Linked DNA regions of Homo sapiens: regions 1, 2 and 3 are each reported to be linked to region 4. The links are microRNA targets in miRTarBase. Many come from high-throughput screens and were not tested one by one. Region 4 holds a microRNA gene; each other region holds the end of a gene's coding sequence.
What was found. The annotated mature microRNA hsa-miR-1915-3p reads CCCCAGGGCGACGCGGCGGG and lies in region 4 at 1,084-1,103, shown strand. An mRNA with a match to its seed (bases 2 to 7 or 8) in the 3' UTR can be bound and repressed. Matches are read on the target gene's strand: a 7mer-m8 pairs with bases 2 to 8, a 7mer-A1 pairs with bases 2 to 7 and ends in A, and an 8mer does both.

Region 1: the mRNA of CBX6 is a reported target of hsa-miR-1915-3p. Seed matches in the 3' UTR shown: 7mer-A1 at 1,498-1,504, 8mer at 1,557-1,564, 7mer-m8 at 1,659-1,665 and 7mer-m8 at 2,748-2,754.
Region 2: miRTarBase lists MYL9 as a target of hsa-miR-1915-3p. Seed matches in the 3' UTR shown: 7mer-m8 at 975-981, 7mer-A1 at 1,140-1,146 and 7mer-m8 at 2,421-2,427.
Region 3: miRTarBase lists NDRG3 as a target of hsa-miR-1915-3p. Seed matches in the 3' UTR shown: 7mer-m8 at 2,078-2,084.

The regions. Positions count from the first base shown.
Region 1 is chr22:38,862,891-38,866,469 of GRCh38, reverse strand. CBX6 (chromobox 6) reads left to right here. Exons shown (of 5, transcript NM_014292.5): 5 at 1-3,579. The coding sequence ends at 261. Among named protein-coding and RNA genes, the nearest start is that of CBX6, 7.5 kb to the left of the region's middle. RefSeq lists enhancers at 1-542, 661-1,538, 1,539-2,418.
Region 2 is chr20:36,548,473-36,552,062 of GRCh38, forward strand. It overlaps MYL9 (myosin light chain 9), which reads left to right. Exons shown (of 4, transcript NM_006097.5): 4 at 605-2,975. The coding sequence ends at 777. All of the region lies in intron 2 of DLGAP4-AS1 (DLGAP4 antisense RNA 1), which reads right to left. Among named protein-coding and RNA genes, the nearest start is that of MYL9, 8.7 kb to the left of the region's middle. RefSeq lists an enhancer at 1-12.
Region 3 is chr20:36,650,829-36,654,418 of GRCh38, reverse strand. It overlaps NDRG3 (NDRG family member 3), which reads left to right. Exons shown (of 16, transcript NM_032013.4): 16 at 718-2,648. The coding sequence ends at 899. Among named protein-coding and RNA genes, the nearest start is that of SLA2, 6.4 kb to the right of the region's middle.
Region 4 is chr10:21,494,089-21,497,678 of GRCh38, reverse strand. MIR1915 (microRNA 1915) reads left to right here and starts at 1,038; the gene lies at 1,038-1,117. It overlaps MIR1915HG (MIR1915 host gene), which reads left to right and starts at 419. Exons shown (of 2, transcript NR_160800.1): 1 at 419-929; 2 at 1,734-3,590. RefSeq lists silencers at 939-1,188, 1,399-1,448, 1,499-1,938, 2,752-2,851 and an enhancer at 2,363-3,156.

The sequences.
Region 1 (3,579 bases), not on the chromosome of region 4:
CGGGCACCGCCTGAGGTCACAGCTGCTGCCGGCCCGGCACCTCCCACGGCCCCTGAGCCCGCCGGTGCCTCCTCCGAGCCCGAGGCTGGGGACTGGCGCCCCGAGATGTCACCCTGCTCCAATGTGGTCGTCACCGATGTCACCAGCAACCTCCTGACGGTCACAATCAAGGAATTCTGCAACCCTGAGGATTTCGAGAAGGTGGCTGCTGGGGTAGCAGGCGCCGCTGGGGGCGGTGGCAGCATTGGGGCGAGCAAGTGAGGGGGCTCCACCAAGGAGGGGGGCTTGGGGGGGCCCTCCTGCCCGAAGTCATACTCTTGCTCCCACCCCACCCTTGCCCCCAGCCCTCTCTCCCTGTGCTTTGCTTGTCTCAAATGGCTCGGTGTTGACCCAGGGATGGGGCTGGGTAGTTGGGGTCCCAGAAAGCCGGGGGTAGGGGCCACCCTGGAATGGGGCAGGGGAAGGGCACACCCCCTGCCCATGCATGGTAGCCCACTGGGTGGTTTCTGGAAAGCCCTAGAAACTAGGGTTCCTCTGCCCCTTCCACATCCCACCTGTCTCTCTAGCTTGCTTCCTGCTCTCCTGTGCGGCGTCTGATTTCTCGGTGCTAACCTGGCAGCTGTGGGGCCCTTAGGAGCCCCCCACCGAGGGTGGACACAGTCCCTTTCCTTCCTGCAGATGCCTAGGCAGGAGGAGGGCTTCCTGCCTGTTTGGCAAAGTCCCAGGCAGAGGCCAAGGATGAGGCCTGACTCGGCTCCTCCCTCCACATCAGCCAGGGCATCAGAAGTTGGGCCAGGGCGGGGTCTTCCCTGCTCGATTTTGGACGAGGCCTAAGTAGACCCCCTATGCCCTGCCCCAGCCCTGGCTCTTTCCTAACCCCCTCAACGGTGGGAGGAACTGGCAGAGGGTGCGCCTGGCCACAGCCTCCCCGCATCTAAAGGCCCCTTCAGTTCTTGACCAAAGGTGCTACGAGAACCTGCCGTGGAAACTTCCAGTTGTGCGTCTGCCCCACTCGCTGTGTTTGTCCGTGGGTTCATACATGCATTGGGTGCTAGGCCCCAGGCTGCCGGGTGGCACCCTTTACAGTTCCTTTGAACAGGGGCATTGAAGGCCTGGACTGCCTCTCGCCTCAGTAGGCCTGGGGACCAGGCTTGGGTCTGGAGGTTTGCTGTGGAAGTCACCAGGCCTCCCCTCCTGGCCCAGGTGTGCTGGGGGCACCGTGCCCCCCACCCCCCTGCCCTCCTCAGGGTGGTCAGCCCAACCTGTCGGACCTTCACTTCACATCATGGTGGGGACCGAGATAGAGAGGGAGACCCCATTCCAAGCTCCCTCTTCCTCCGGGTGTTTGGGGAGGATGCTGAAGAATCCATTCCCGAGGGCCTCCCGGCTTGTCCCAGCCCCTCTTTTGCTTCTGACCACGGAGGCTTTCTCACAGCCCAGCCTGCCTGAAGCAAAGGAGGCTCCCGTGTCCTGGGCAGCTTCTGTTTCCCTCTGCTGCCTGGGAGCTGAGGCACCCGTGCCAGTGGCAGAGGCCACAGCCCCAGCCTTAGGCCAGGCCCTGGGAGGGCAGGCAGGCAAAGGGGAGACCAGAGGGTCTGTGTTCTCCAGGAGAATGAGGGTGTTGGTCCCAGAATTGGGACCGGGGCCCCGCTGGCCAGCCCTGGGCCACTTCCCGGGTCTCCATTGTGCGTGGGTGGCGTGTTCCAGGCGTGGCTGGAGCTGGCTTCCTGGCTGTGCTGCCATGGGCCCCTCCCTCAGAAGCACGTTGGCAGGAGGCCGATCAGAACCCTAGCGCCTTTGGTCCTAAGAATGGGAGGCTGCCTTCCTTCCCAATCTCCCTGCCAGGGCCCACAGCGTGGCCCTAGCCCTCCCCTCCCCGGGATGTAGAACGGGGACCCTCGCAGGGTTGGGGCGGGGGCTGATACTCCTCGGCCCCTCCCTACCCTGCCCTGTGTGTTGGCTTTGTGGCCGTCCAAGTGCCAATTGGCTTTTCGCCCAAATAAGGGCTGGTATTTCTCCTCTGTCCTTGGAGGTGATTTCCCCCTGACCCCCTCCCCCAGGTGAGTGACCACCTGGGTGCCAGTTACAGGTGTTTCCAGAGACCATAGAAATGTGTTTTCCTGAGAGTTCGTGTCATTCGTGACTTTTTTGTAAAGAAGTTGTGTTTTCAGAGGTGATTTTATGACAGGAAAGTGAAAGAATTAGTTTTGCAAAAAAACAAAAACAAAAAAAGAGGAAAAAAAAAAGAAATAGAAAAAAATATTGTGGGATTCCTATGGGGGGGTGGCGGGGGAGAAAGAGCTATTTAAGAAAAAATAGTAACGCAGTGATTGCACAGGTGAGGTGGCAATGTCAGGATGGGGCGGAGGCCTGGGCCCAGCTGGCAGGTCCCCTGGCATCGCAGGCACTGTGGAGAGGGCCTGGACCCAGATCTCCACACCCGTGCTTGCTCAAAGGGAAGGACAACAGCGGGCCCCCGGGAGCTAACCCAAGCTGCAGGTCCCGGCAAGCTGAGGTTTGGGAGGGTGGGGGTTGTCACTGGTGATTTTCTCCAGGGGGCTGGTGAGTGGGCAGTTTGGTTTCTTGCCCCCTTCTGTTCCTTTCCCAGTTGTTGGGCCATCTGGTCCCCACCACCGCCACCCTATGGGGGAGACCTCCCTCCCCACGGGTCACCCTAAAGCCCACAACCTCTCTGAGCCTCCCTGGCCTGAAAGGGGATGCAGGCTTCAGGAGGCAAGAAGCTGGGCCCCTGGGGGTGGCTGGGGAGAGGGAATGCATTTCCCTTGCCACAGGTGGTCTGCTTCTGCTGGCCTGAGCTCCAAGTGGAGCAGCCCGGGCCAGCCTTGGTGCATGAAGAGGCACCAGGCACACCGCCTTGAGGTGGGCAGTGCCCATGGGGGCCCGAGTGGATGGGACCGAGGGTGAGTGGAGCCTCCTTCCTCCCCTCTCTAGTACCCCCGCCTCCCACACACTTGCACGGATCGGCCTCCCTTGGGAGATCAGCCTCCATGGGCCCCTCGTCCACCCTTGCTGCTTTCCATTTGCCTAATTACCAAGCAGAAGTTGCAATCTGGTTTGCTTTATTTTTGTATGTGAAATAACCCCCAAAGCCCAATCTCCTCCTACGTTCAATATTGGTTGGGGCATCCGTCATCTCCCCTTAAGTGCGCCCCCTCCCCACCCAAGTATCATAGGAAACCGGTGAGGTCTGGTGTCTCTGGTTTGAGACGGTAAGTTGGGACCCATCCCTGTCTGGGTGCCCACTCTGACCTTTAGTTTGCCCTTCTGTGAAATGGGTGTATTGGGTAGCAAGCCCTCTTCAGAAAGCGCTGCTGGTGTCAGAGCAGCTGCCCAGTACCAGGTGGGGGGTCAAGGTTGCTGGTACTGGGGCCCCCAGCTGCCCACAACCCCTCTTTGTTCTCACCCTGCAAAGGGGTCAAGGTCAAAATGAGCCTCATCCTTCCTATGATCTGGGAAGAGGTGATGATCAAGTCCCCAACTTCAGTGTGAGGTGGACAGAGTTGGGGGGATGGCCCCTTTTTGAAGAGGTGAAAATGGTTTTGGAGAAGCGCAGCTGCT
Region 2 (3,590 bases), not on the chromosome of region 4:
GCCAAGAAGGTATAGAAACTGGCCCCCCTCCTCGGATCTCCTAACGGATATTCCATCCCTCAGCTCATTTTTCCCAGGGACATGTCAGGGTGATGATGGCCATGGTAACATGGCCATGGGCCCGCACGGGCCTGACTACCTTCACGGTCCCTCACTGCAATGGCATACGTTCATCCCTGTTTTCTAGATTAAACAGGCACACGGAGGTTAAGGACCTTGCCCAAAGTCACATAGCTAGGGAGAATGGGAATCAGCACTGCAACTCAGGCAGTGGAACTCCAGAGCTCACGCTTAAAACAGGGCACACCCAACACCATCTGTGTGCACAGCCTCAAGTTCCCCAAGTGACACCTCGGAGACAGTCCCACTGCACAACTCCTCCCCTCAGGACCCTGGCACCCCTTCACGTGGGATCCGACACCCCTTCACGTGCACCCCCACACCCCTCCTGCCACGTCCTCATTCCTCAGACTGACCAGAGACTAAGATTGTATCTTCCCAGCCCCTCTAGGTCTGCAAGAGCTGCCAGGGGGCTGAGGGATGGGGCTGCTGTGTATGTCTCAGCCCAAGTTCCTGCTCTCACCCACCCTGCCCCTGCCCGCAGGTTTCATCCATGAGGACCACCTCCGGGAGCTGCTCACCACCATGGGTGACCGCTTCACAGATGAGGAAGTGGACGAGATGTACCGGGAGGCACCCATTGATAAGAAAGGCAACTTCAACTACGTGGAGTTCACCCGCATCCTCAAACATGGCGCCAAGGATAAAGACGACTAGGCCACCCCAGCCCCCTGACACCCCAGCCCCCGCCAGTCACCCCTCCCCGCACACACCCGTCCATACCAGCTCCCTGCCCATGACCCTCGCTCAGGGATCCCCCTTTGAGGGGTTAGGGTCCCAGTTCCCAGTGGAAGAAACAGGCCAGGAGAAGTGCGTGCCGAGCTGAGGCAGATGTTCCCACAGTGACCCCAGAGCCCTGGGCTATAGTCTCTGACCCCTCCAAGGAAAGACCACCTTCTGGGGACATGGGCTGGAGGGCAGGACCTAGAGGCACCAAGGGAAGGCCCCATTCCGGGGCTGTTCCCCGAGGAGGAAGGGAAGGGGCTCTGTGTGCCCCCCAGGAGGAAGAGGCCCTGAGTCCTGGGATCAGACACCCCTTCACGTGTATCCCCACACAAATGCAAGCTCACCAAGGTCCCCTCTCAGTCCCCTTCCCTACACCCTGACCGGCCACTGCCGCACACCCACCCAGAGCACGCCACCCGCCATGGGAGTGTGCTCAGGAGTCGCGGGCAGCGTGGACATCTGTCCCAGAGGGGGCAGAATCTCCAATAGAGGACTGAGCACTGCTTCTGGTCTGTGTGTCTGTGGCTGGGGTGAAGTAAGGGGACCCCGGGCCTGAAACCCTCTCCCACCTTCTCCTGCCATCTCCAGTTACTGCCCTGCTCCTCCCACCCTGGCCCAGGGAAGGACTGGGTGTCCTCCGGCCATATGGTCCCTGAAGCCTCTAGGGACCAGAGTCCCTAGTAAGTGGGCTCTGTGCTCAGCTGAGACCAGCAGGGGACAGGGGACGGAGGGAATGGGCCTCATGGCCTTCTCAGGGCTTGTGGGAAAGGGAGGACCATGGGAATCACCACAGCCAATCCCGTGGAGGGTTCCAGGCCTCTTGGGGGGCAGAGGTCAGGCCACACAGCCCTCAGGACTAAAGCTCCGGGTTCCAGAAGAACAGGGAGGCTCCAACAGTGATGAGGCAGGCGTCCCAGCAGCTCAGGGTTGGAGGTGGGAATGAGGGGTTTCCCAGCCCCAGGCAGGTGGAGGGCGAGTTCAGCCCCAGGACCAACAGCATGGGGGCCACAGCTTTCCATGTCCCTGTGTACGCAGGGCAGGCAGGGCCGGGACCCCTGCTACTGGTGGATGATGGGGACACTGATGGCAGTGCCTGGGGCCTAAGAGGGGCAGAAAGAGCGCTGAATGACTGAGCAGAGAGTCCAGAGGGGCATGGACTGCCTGGGTCACCCAATAGGCCTAGGGAAGAGTGAGGGCCGGACCCACCCCACCTGACCCCAGCGAGTGGACCCAGCTTGGTCCTGAGGCCTTCTCCAGAGGTCACCCAGCGCAGGCAGCCGCAGCACTCAGCAAAGGTCCCAGATCAGGGCCAAGGGGGAGCTGAGCACCAGGGGACCCTGTGCCTGACCAGGAGGCCCTAACCTCCTGCAGGCCTCAACGCCAGGCCCTGCTCAGAGCTCGGCTGAAACTCCTCATCCTGGCTCCAAACAGAGGCCCAAAAGTCCCTGGTATCAACTCCAGAAGGGGCGAGACCCGAACAAGTTCCAAACCAGGCCCAAATAGTATCCCAAACTCAGTCCCAAACACATTCTCACCCCCGGCAGCAGGCTGCAGGCCTCCAGCTACACACACGGCCCTGGGCAACTCTCAGTCTGGCCACCCATTCGATGCTGCCAGCCCCAAGGGTGTGGGAGGGGGGTCTCAGAGTGTCCCAGGGTACTGGCCACACATGCCCGACACCAGGGTCATAAGGTCCTCTCAGCAGAGCCACTGCAGCACCAAAGGCATTTCTGGAAGGAGGCAAGGACGCGTCATCTAGATGTCAAGCCCCAGCGTGCGATTCTGTCACAGTTCACCCCACCTTCACCCCGAGACGGAAGACGGAAGAGCTTCGCACACAGGCGGGAAGAGGTCAGGACCAGTCCAGCCTCACTGGCTTCAGAACTGGCCTGGGGGCTACCTTGACCCACAGGAAGGGAAGAGGAACGTGCTCTGGGCAGGGCAAGGCAGGACCTGCAGCACCCACAGACCAGCAGTAAAGGACCCCCGGAACTTTCCAAGTCTAGCACAAAACCCAGAAGCCACAAAGGAAAATACTGGCAGATTTAAATGCATGAAGTCAACATTCTTTTTGTAGAGCTAAAGAAACCATAAGCAAAATTAAAAGCCAAATGCATTCTGGGAGGAAATACCTGCAGCATATTTAACAAAACAAGAGTTAACACTAATCTATATAAAGCTTCAGTAATTGAATCAGAAAAAGACAACGCCGTAGGAAAAAAATGGTAACATGAAAAGGAATCTCAGAAGAAATGCATATACTTATTTTTTTCTTTTTTTTTTGAGACAGAGTCTCGCTCTTTCTCCCAGGCTGGAGTGCAGTGGCGTGATCTCGGCTCACTGCAACCTCCGCCTCCCGGGTTCAAGTGATTCTCCTGCCTCAACCTCCCAAGTAGCTGGGACTACAGGTGTGCGCCACCACGCCCAGCTAATTTTTGTATATTTAGTAGAGACAGGGTTTCACCATGTTCGCCAGATGGTCTCCATCTCTTGACCTTGTGATCCACCCACCTTAGCCTCCCAAAGTGCTGGGATTACAGGGGTGGGCCACCACGCCCGGCCAAAATACATACACTTAATAAGAACATTTTAAATACTCACCAAATACATTTTTAAGTGCTCAACATCATTGTAAAACTGTAAAATTTTCTATTTTTTCCTAGTATTTGTCTAGCTTTTTCAGACTGGGTCTTTCTGTTGCTCAGGCTGGAGTGCAGTGGTGTGATCATAGGTCCCTGCAGCCT
Region 3 (3,590 bases), not on the chromosome of region 4:
GACCCCAGCATTGAAATGACAGCTAGGGGAGTGGCTGCTGCCCAGGACGATAGGCAGGGAGGCTATGCCAGGTAAGGCCCAGTCCCAGCCAAGCTGGAAGGACCTTAGAGTCAAGCAGTGGCAGAACAGGAGTCTGAGTTAAACACCTGCTTCTCTGTCCCTGGCAACCTGTACCTCATCCCTGTGTTGAGGTCAGCTCCAAGCCAATCTGCCCTCCCCTTCACCTGCACCATCCTACAAATCTCCTCCCTGGTAGCAAGGTAGCCTGTGGACACGGATGGTAGTCTCGTTGTATCGGGCTTGCACTGTGTTTGTGAAACACCTTCATACTTGTGTGTGTGTCTTTCTTTTCTTTTGGTTTAGTCTTGCATGCACTGTAGGTTTTGGTTACCTGTTTGGGTTCCCAAAGCCTCCATTCTGTCACTGTCTGAATGGTGTGGGCATAGTTAAGAGGCTATACTCTGGATTTAGGGTTTCCCCTTGTTCTGCGGTGACTACAATCAGCTGAGATTCCAACCAGATCTAAAGGATTAAAGTGGCCTCACATATCGCCACTCACCTAGAGCAAATGATACAAAATGGGGATGGCTATATCTTGTCCTGGGTGTCATGGTAAATGAGTCGGAAAAGCTAAACATAAAGACTTTGATGAGACTCCTAGGTTAGCTGGGCTTAACCGGGGCTTCATCTTCTAGTCCCCTTGGTTCTCTGTTACAGTACCATCTGCCAGCATGACTCGGCTCGCCCGATCACGAACCCACTCAACCTCGAGTAGCCTCGGCTCTGGAGAAAGTCCCTTCAGCCGGTCTGTCACCAGCAATCAGTCAGATGGAACTCAAGAATCCTGTGAGTCCCCTGATGTCCTGGACAGACACCAGACCATGGAGGTGTCCTGCTAAGCAGATGCTCCTCCCCTGGACCATTGCAAGTCCATCCTTCAAATGACCACTCCATAATATAACATTTCATCCAGTAAACTGGCCTCTACTATCTTTAACTCATGCATGGCCACTGAACCTCTCTCTAGTAGCCTGGATTTATCATTCTCTCTGCCTGCCCACCCCCTTTTTTGTATAGCCCAAGAACCACTTCCATGCCATACTGTAACATTCCAACATCTTTAGCTGATCAGATCTCTCCATATCCTCTCTTGCCAGCTTTTTCCCGTGCTCCCCCAACTATGTATCAGATAAGATTCTTTGATCCCGACTCTGTGTGTGCGAGCACGCGTGTCTGTGTTTGTGTGTGCATAGTTCTGTGGTTTTAGACACGCTTTCTTGTAGTGCTTCTGCAAAAAACAAAAAAGGGACTTATTTTGCATTCTCAATGGTGTTTTTAAGGGAATTAGGCAGAACAGATTTCTAGGTTGGGTAGGCCACTGCATTCTCTTTTGTTTGCAAATTGGTCAACAAAATTTGCAAAGTGATTTCAGGAGAGAGCAGCTTTGAGGAATGTGGAAAATCATAATTGCCGTCTGGACCATTGATTGATTGTGACCAGTAGCAGAAGGGTGCCTGTTACATAGAGAGGCTCCTTCTGTCCAAATGAATTTCTGTATACTCTTCTATAAATAAAAGGGAGGAATATATTCTGCTGGAAGCCCATGAACCATCGCTGAGGTTCTGATACAACATAGAGTTTTTTCCAAGGAGTGAATGTGGTTTAATTACTGGACTCTCTTAGCACAGGAAGGTGGAAACAAAATGCCAGGCCTCTGCTCTGAAGAGCAAAACTGCTGTCGCTGCAGTATCTGATACCAGACATCCACATATCCACAAGAAGTGCCTCTTAGGTCTGTGACAGAGAGTGTGTCTCCATTCCTCAGTTCCCAGAAAGGGGAGAGGTTTGGCCTAAAAAGCATGTAGATGGGGGAGAAATGGGTGGGGGGAGAGGAACAGCCATTAACACAGTATCATGTTTAACAAGTATAGCCTTGATTTCAGTAGATGTAATGGAAGCCAAATTAAATTGATACAGAACCCATTTCTCAGAGTCTTTTTTTTTTTTTGAGACAGAGTCTCGCTGTTACCCAGGCTGGAGTGCAATGGCGCAAACTTGGCTCACTGCAACCTCTGCCCCCTGGGTTCAAGCGATTCTCCTGCCTCAGCCTCCCGAGTAGCTGAGACTACAGGCACCTGCCACCATACCCAGCTAAGTTATGTATTTTTAGTAGAGATGGAGTTTCACCATGTTGGCCAGGCTGGTCTCAAACTCCTGACCTCAGGTGATCCACCTGCCTCAGCCTCCCAAAGTGCTGGGATTACAGGCATGAGTCATTGCTCCCAGCCATTAGAAAGATTGTTAATCCTATGAACTCCCTTTTGTAGGAGAGAAAGGGCCAATCTGTAGGGGTAGCCCTGTCCAGGTAAAGTTGTTTTCAGCCTCATGTCTACTGTTAGGTGAGGGAGTCACAGCCAGACAGAGAGTATTGCTGGAGGGTGAGAGAATTGTGGAGACCAACTACCACATAGCAAGAGCCCAGCTCTTGGGAGCATTGAGATGTAAGCTCAGGGTTACACAGTTCCAAATCTTGGGAAGGGGCTTTTCAGACAGACTGTTTGCTTTCTGCTGAGATAAGGAATGCATCACTCTGCCAGAGTATGACTTTTTACAGATTATTAAATAAAGCTGCATATGTCTCATTGTTACCTGATTGCTGGTGTTATTTCTTTCAAGCCATTCACTGGGGTTCAGGGCAGGACCGAGTTGCTGTATGCTGGTTCTGTGTTGCCATTTTCACATGTGATTGCTTATCCACCAAGCGACACTGTCCATTTATAGGAGGAAATGAAGACTGATGATAAATCATTTGCCCAAGGTCATGCAGCCAATAAGTCCAGCCAGGATCAAATCCCAGGGAATTATGCAGAATTCTATCTGATGTGTCTGTATTTCCCTCAAGCCAAAAATCGTGAGAAGCCTGACAGTGTTGTTTGTGATGGAGGAGGAGAAGCTGAGGTCTTGAGAAGGTGGTCCACGTCACAGCTCCACCACCTGTGTGGGATTGCTGGGTTCCACCTCTCATTTTAATAATCTGCAACCACTTGTCTTCTAAGAGACCAGCTTGTGTTTCTCCAGAAATGGCTATATTTGTACCCATCAAGAATAATTTCAGACCGAGTGCAGTGGCTCACGCCTGTAATCCCAACACTCTGGGAGGCCAAGGTGGGCGGATCACCTGAGGTCAGGAGTTAAAGACCAGCCTGGCCAACATGGTGAAACCCTGTTTCTACTAAAAATACAAAAATTAGCCAGGCATGGTGGTATGTGCCTGTAATCCCAGCTACTTGGAAGGCTGAGGCAGGAGAATCACTTGAACCCGGGAGGTGGAGTTTGCAGTGAGCCAAGATCACACCACTGCACTCTAGCCTGGGCTACAGAGCGAGACTGTCTCAAAAAAAAAAAAAAAAAAAAAAGCCAGGCATGGTGGCTCACGCCTGTAATCCCAGCACTTTGGGAGGCCAAGGCGGGCGGATCACTGGAGGTCAGGAGTTCGAGACCAGCCTGACCAATGTGATAAAACCCTGTCTCTACTAAAAATACAAAAAAAAAAAAAAAAATTAGTCGAGCGTGGTGGCATGCACCTGTAA
Region 4 (3,590 bases):
GGAATGAGGGAACTGTAAAAGACGTGACTTTGCAAAGTCAAGTCCTTTTTAAAAGACTCGGATCGAAATTCTTGCTATGCAACAAGGATTCAAGTTTGATTAATTTTCTGCAAGCGACGTGACAGCGGTGTTTTAAAAGATTAATTAAAATTGAAGTGATACGGAGCAGGAATTCAACCTGCAGAGGCGTCCCTGGCGCCTTGGGGGGCTTTGTAAGCGAGTCCCAAGCCCGAACTGCGGGCTTTCCCGAGCCTGGGACGCAACTCCCCGTCTCCTGGAGAGGAACGCGGAATTTGGCAGGGCGCCCGCCTGGCCGCCTGGCATCCTGAGCTGGCCGCCAGCTCTCGGGGGGTGGGGACTGGGTGTGTCCTGGGGAACCCGCTGCCGAGAGAGCAGCTAGCGCAGCTCGCGACGAGCCATTGAGGACCAGGGTCGCGCCGAGAGGCCGGAGGGGGCTCCAGGCAGCCTGGAGCTGACGGCGCCGGGCTGCGTCCTCTTCACCTGGGGGTGGGGGGTGGGGGCACGTACTTTGTGACCAGGATGGTGCCGAGCCCCCTCTACGGCGGGAGCTTGCAGGGGTGCGGGGGTGTGACTGGCGCTCCGCGGACTCGTGTCCACAGTACAGAGGACATGTAGGGTTCGGCCGGGGCGCGGCTGCACCGGGGCCTGCCTCGCGGACCTGGACTCGGGACTCCGGGCGGCCCTGCCTGGTGCCATTGCCTCAGCCAAGTCTCCCACCTCTCTGCTCGGTTTCCCGCCCCACCTTTCCCCTACTACCGCATCCCTGTCCCCTCGCTTCCCTCCGCGATGTCTCCATCCGAGTAAGAAACGAAGCTGAACGCATTGGTAACTGTGCTCAAGAAGATGCAATCGCGGGAGCCCTCAGGGTGGCGCACGGCGGAGAGGCGACGCGGGTGGCGCTGCAGAGGGTACGGTGGGGGGCGGGGAAGAGGGGGGCGTTCGTGTGCAATTAGCCTCCCCAGGGCGCGGACCACGGTGTCCCCTTCTCTCCAGCTGGGGGTCTCGGGTCCTGGCGCTGAGAGGCCGCACCTTGCCTTGCTGCCCGGGCCGTGCACCCGTGGGCCCCAGGGCGACGCGGCGGGGGCGGCCCTAGCGACCTGCGGCGGCGCCGGGAAAGCCCTGCCTCTGCAGCGGGTCCCAGGGGTCGGGGCCTGGAAGGGTCCCTGGGAATGCTCCGCGCCGAGAAGGCTCTGTGGTTTCTCCTCCCCCACACGTCTCCCTCTCCTCCCCTCTTCCCGGGGACCTCAGAGGTGGCGGGGAAGTGGGAAGGGAGGCGGGCTTGCAGACCGTGCAGGCTGGGGAGCCGGAGCTCGGGAGTTGGGGGAGTCCGAGTGAGAACGGAAGCGCGTGGACGCGATGGAAGGGGCCGGGGGAAAGGGGGACGGCACTGGGGAGGGCTGGGGTGCGGGGCAGGCGACAGTCCCTTCCCCTCCGAGCGGCGCGGGGGACCTCTTCCCCGGGGAACCCCCACCCAGCCGTTCCCAACCTCGAGAACAAAGGGTCTGGGAAGCACGGTCGGGGTCGGGGAGCGGAGGTGGAGGGAGGCAGGAAGGCAGGCGGTGGGGGCAGGGGAGGGCGCCTCCCCACGTTTCCTCTCGCGGCCGAATGATGGAAAGCTCCCTCCAGCAAACGCCTCACTGAGGCCGCTTCTGAATCCGGGAGGGTTCGGGTTCGTTACCTAACGGCTGCACTTCGCTCCCTTCCTCCCCCAGCGTCCCCACCCCCTCCGGGGACCGGGGCCCCGGAGCTGCCAGGCCCGCTGCACGCGGCGGCGCGGGAGAAACCACGGGGCAGCAGCGCCCCCTGCAGGTGCCGGGCGCCTCCGCAGCCGCTGCGCGGACCCGACTCTTAAGGTGGCACCACCGGGTTCCCAGCCCGCGCGCAACCCGCAGCCCTGGCTCCATCCGCCGCACTTCTCCCTGTAGCGGCGGGCCTGACCGTCCGGAACGGCCGGAGTGTGCTGATGCCTGCTGCTATCTGCTTGATCCCTTCACCCTACCTCTCATCCAGGACTTCTTCCGCGGATGCGCAGCTAGCGATTTCGACAGGCGAGATTGAAAATTCCGGGCGAGTATATGAGGTTGAGTAAGTCCCGCTTCAGGGAGGAACGACCAGAATGACATTTCTTTAAGCCTAAATCAAACTTTTATTTTCGTTTATAAAAAGCAGAAGGCCAGCAGGAAAGGGTCGCGGAGGACTGGCACATCCACAACCGTAGGACTCTTGGATCCAAGTTTTTAGGCTGAGACTGGGCGGTCCGGGGTTCTCCTTCGGCGCTCACACCCCGCAAACTCGTGGGCAGTGCAGTGCTGGAGGCCGGGGGCAGTGGCGGACCCGCAGGGTAACCTTGTCTCGCGCACCTCCCGAGCCCCCAGCAGCCCACTCTCGTCCGAATGCTTTGTTTATTTGGTGACACCAGGGAACGTGGAGAAGAAGATCGAAGTTCAGTTTTTCTTTTTTCTTTATTTTAAATATTTTTCTTAACTAAATGGTATGTTTATGTGAACCCATCATCTCTTGGAATTAAGTGTCCTCAGCGAACTCCAGATTCCTAGGGGAAACCTACGTGCCCAGAGCAGGAAACGCACAAGTCAATTCAGGTTCCGGTGCCATCCGCAGTAAATTCCCTTCCTTTTGCTCCAAATTCCTCCTCTGCGTCCAGGAGAGGGACCCCCGGGACTCCCGCACACCCAGGACCGGGAGCGGCAGAGCAGAGGGCGGGTGCGAGGGCGCGAGGGAAGGGAGGCGGCCTGCGGACCTGGGGCGCGCAGTTTCCCGGCTCCGTGGGAACCTCCAACCCCGGGGCGCGCGGCCTAGGCTCCGCCCTGCCAGGCTTGGGGCCGAGCGGCCCACCTAGTGGGTCCTGACCTGGGGAAGCCGAGTCCGCGCGCGGGTCGGGCCGCGACGAGGGAAGCTCGCCTGGGCAAGTGCCGCGCGGGGTCAGACCCACCCCAGGGGTTGCAAACCGCAAGCGAAAGTCGAGAGGGGCTGGAGCTTTCCCTCTGATCCGTTTTACACTGTGAAAACCGCAGGCCTGTCGCCTAGGCGGCCACTTTTAAATTGGGAAGCAAATAGACGAAAAACCAAAACAAACGTACGAGCTGACTTTTCCCAGCTAAGTTTCCCCTCAATAAAAAGCCCGCTTTCTGGGAAAGACAGAAACTGATCCGCGCTCACGATTGCTTTCTTGGAGATTCTGGGGGCACTGGGGCGCGCAGGAGGCGCGGCGACAACCCCAGCGCGCATGGGGCAGCCTGGACTGTGCCCCTCTTACCAAGCTCCTTCCCAGGCTTCTCCGTGCTTCTCTCTCCACTGGGGTCCCGCCTCTCCACGGGTCACGCCGAGGCTATATGCTGCTTGCAAGGGGTCCGCGCTTTCTCGTTCGGCGGGAAAGGCACATGTTGGAGCTCGATGTTGGGGCTCAGGGTGTGGTTGATTTGTCTGCTGATCTGGGTTTCTTCCCAGCACCGGGCAGGAAGTGTAGGAGTTTGGGTCGCCAGTCCAGGGACTCGGGAAACTTCCAGGCCAACCAGAAGAAACACTTGCAGACACCTTTCGAATGTCACAGT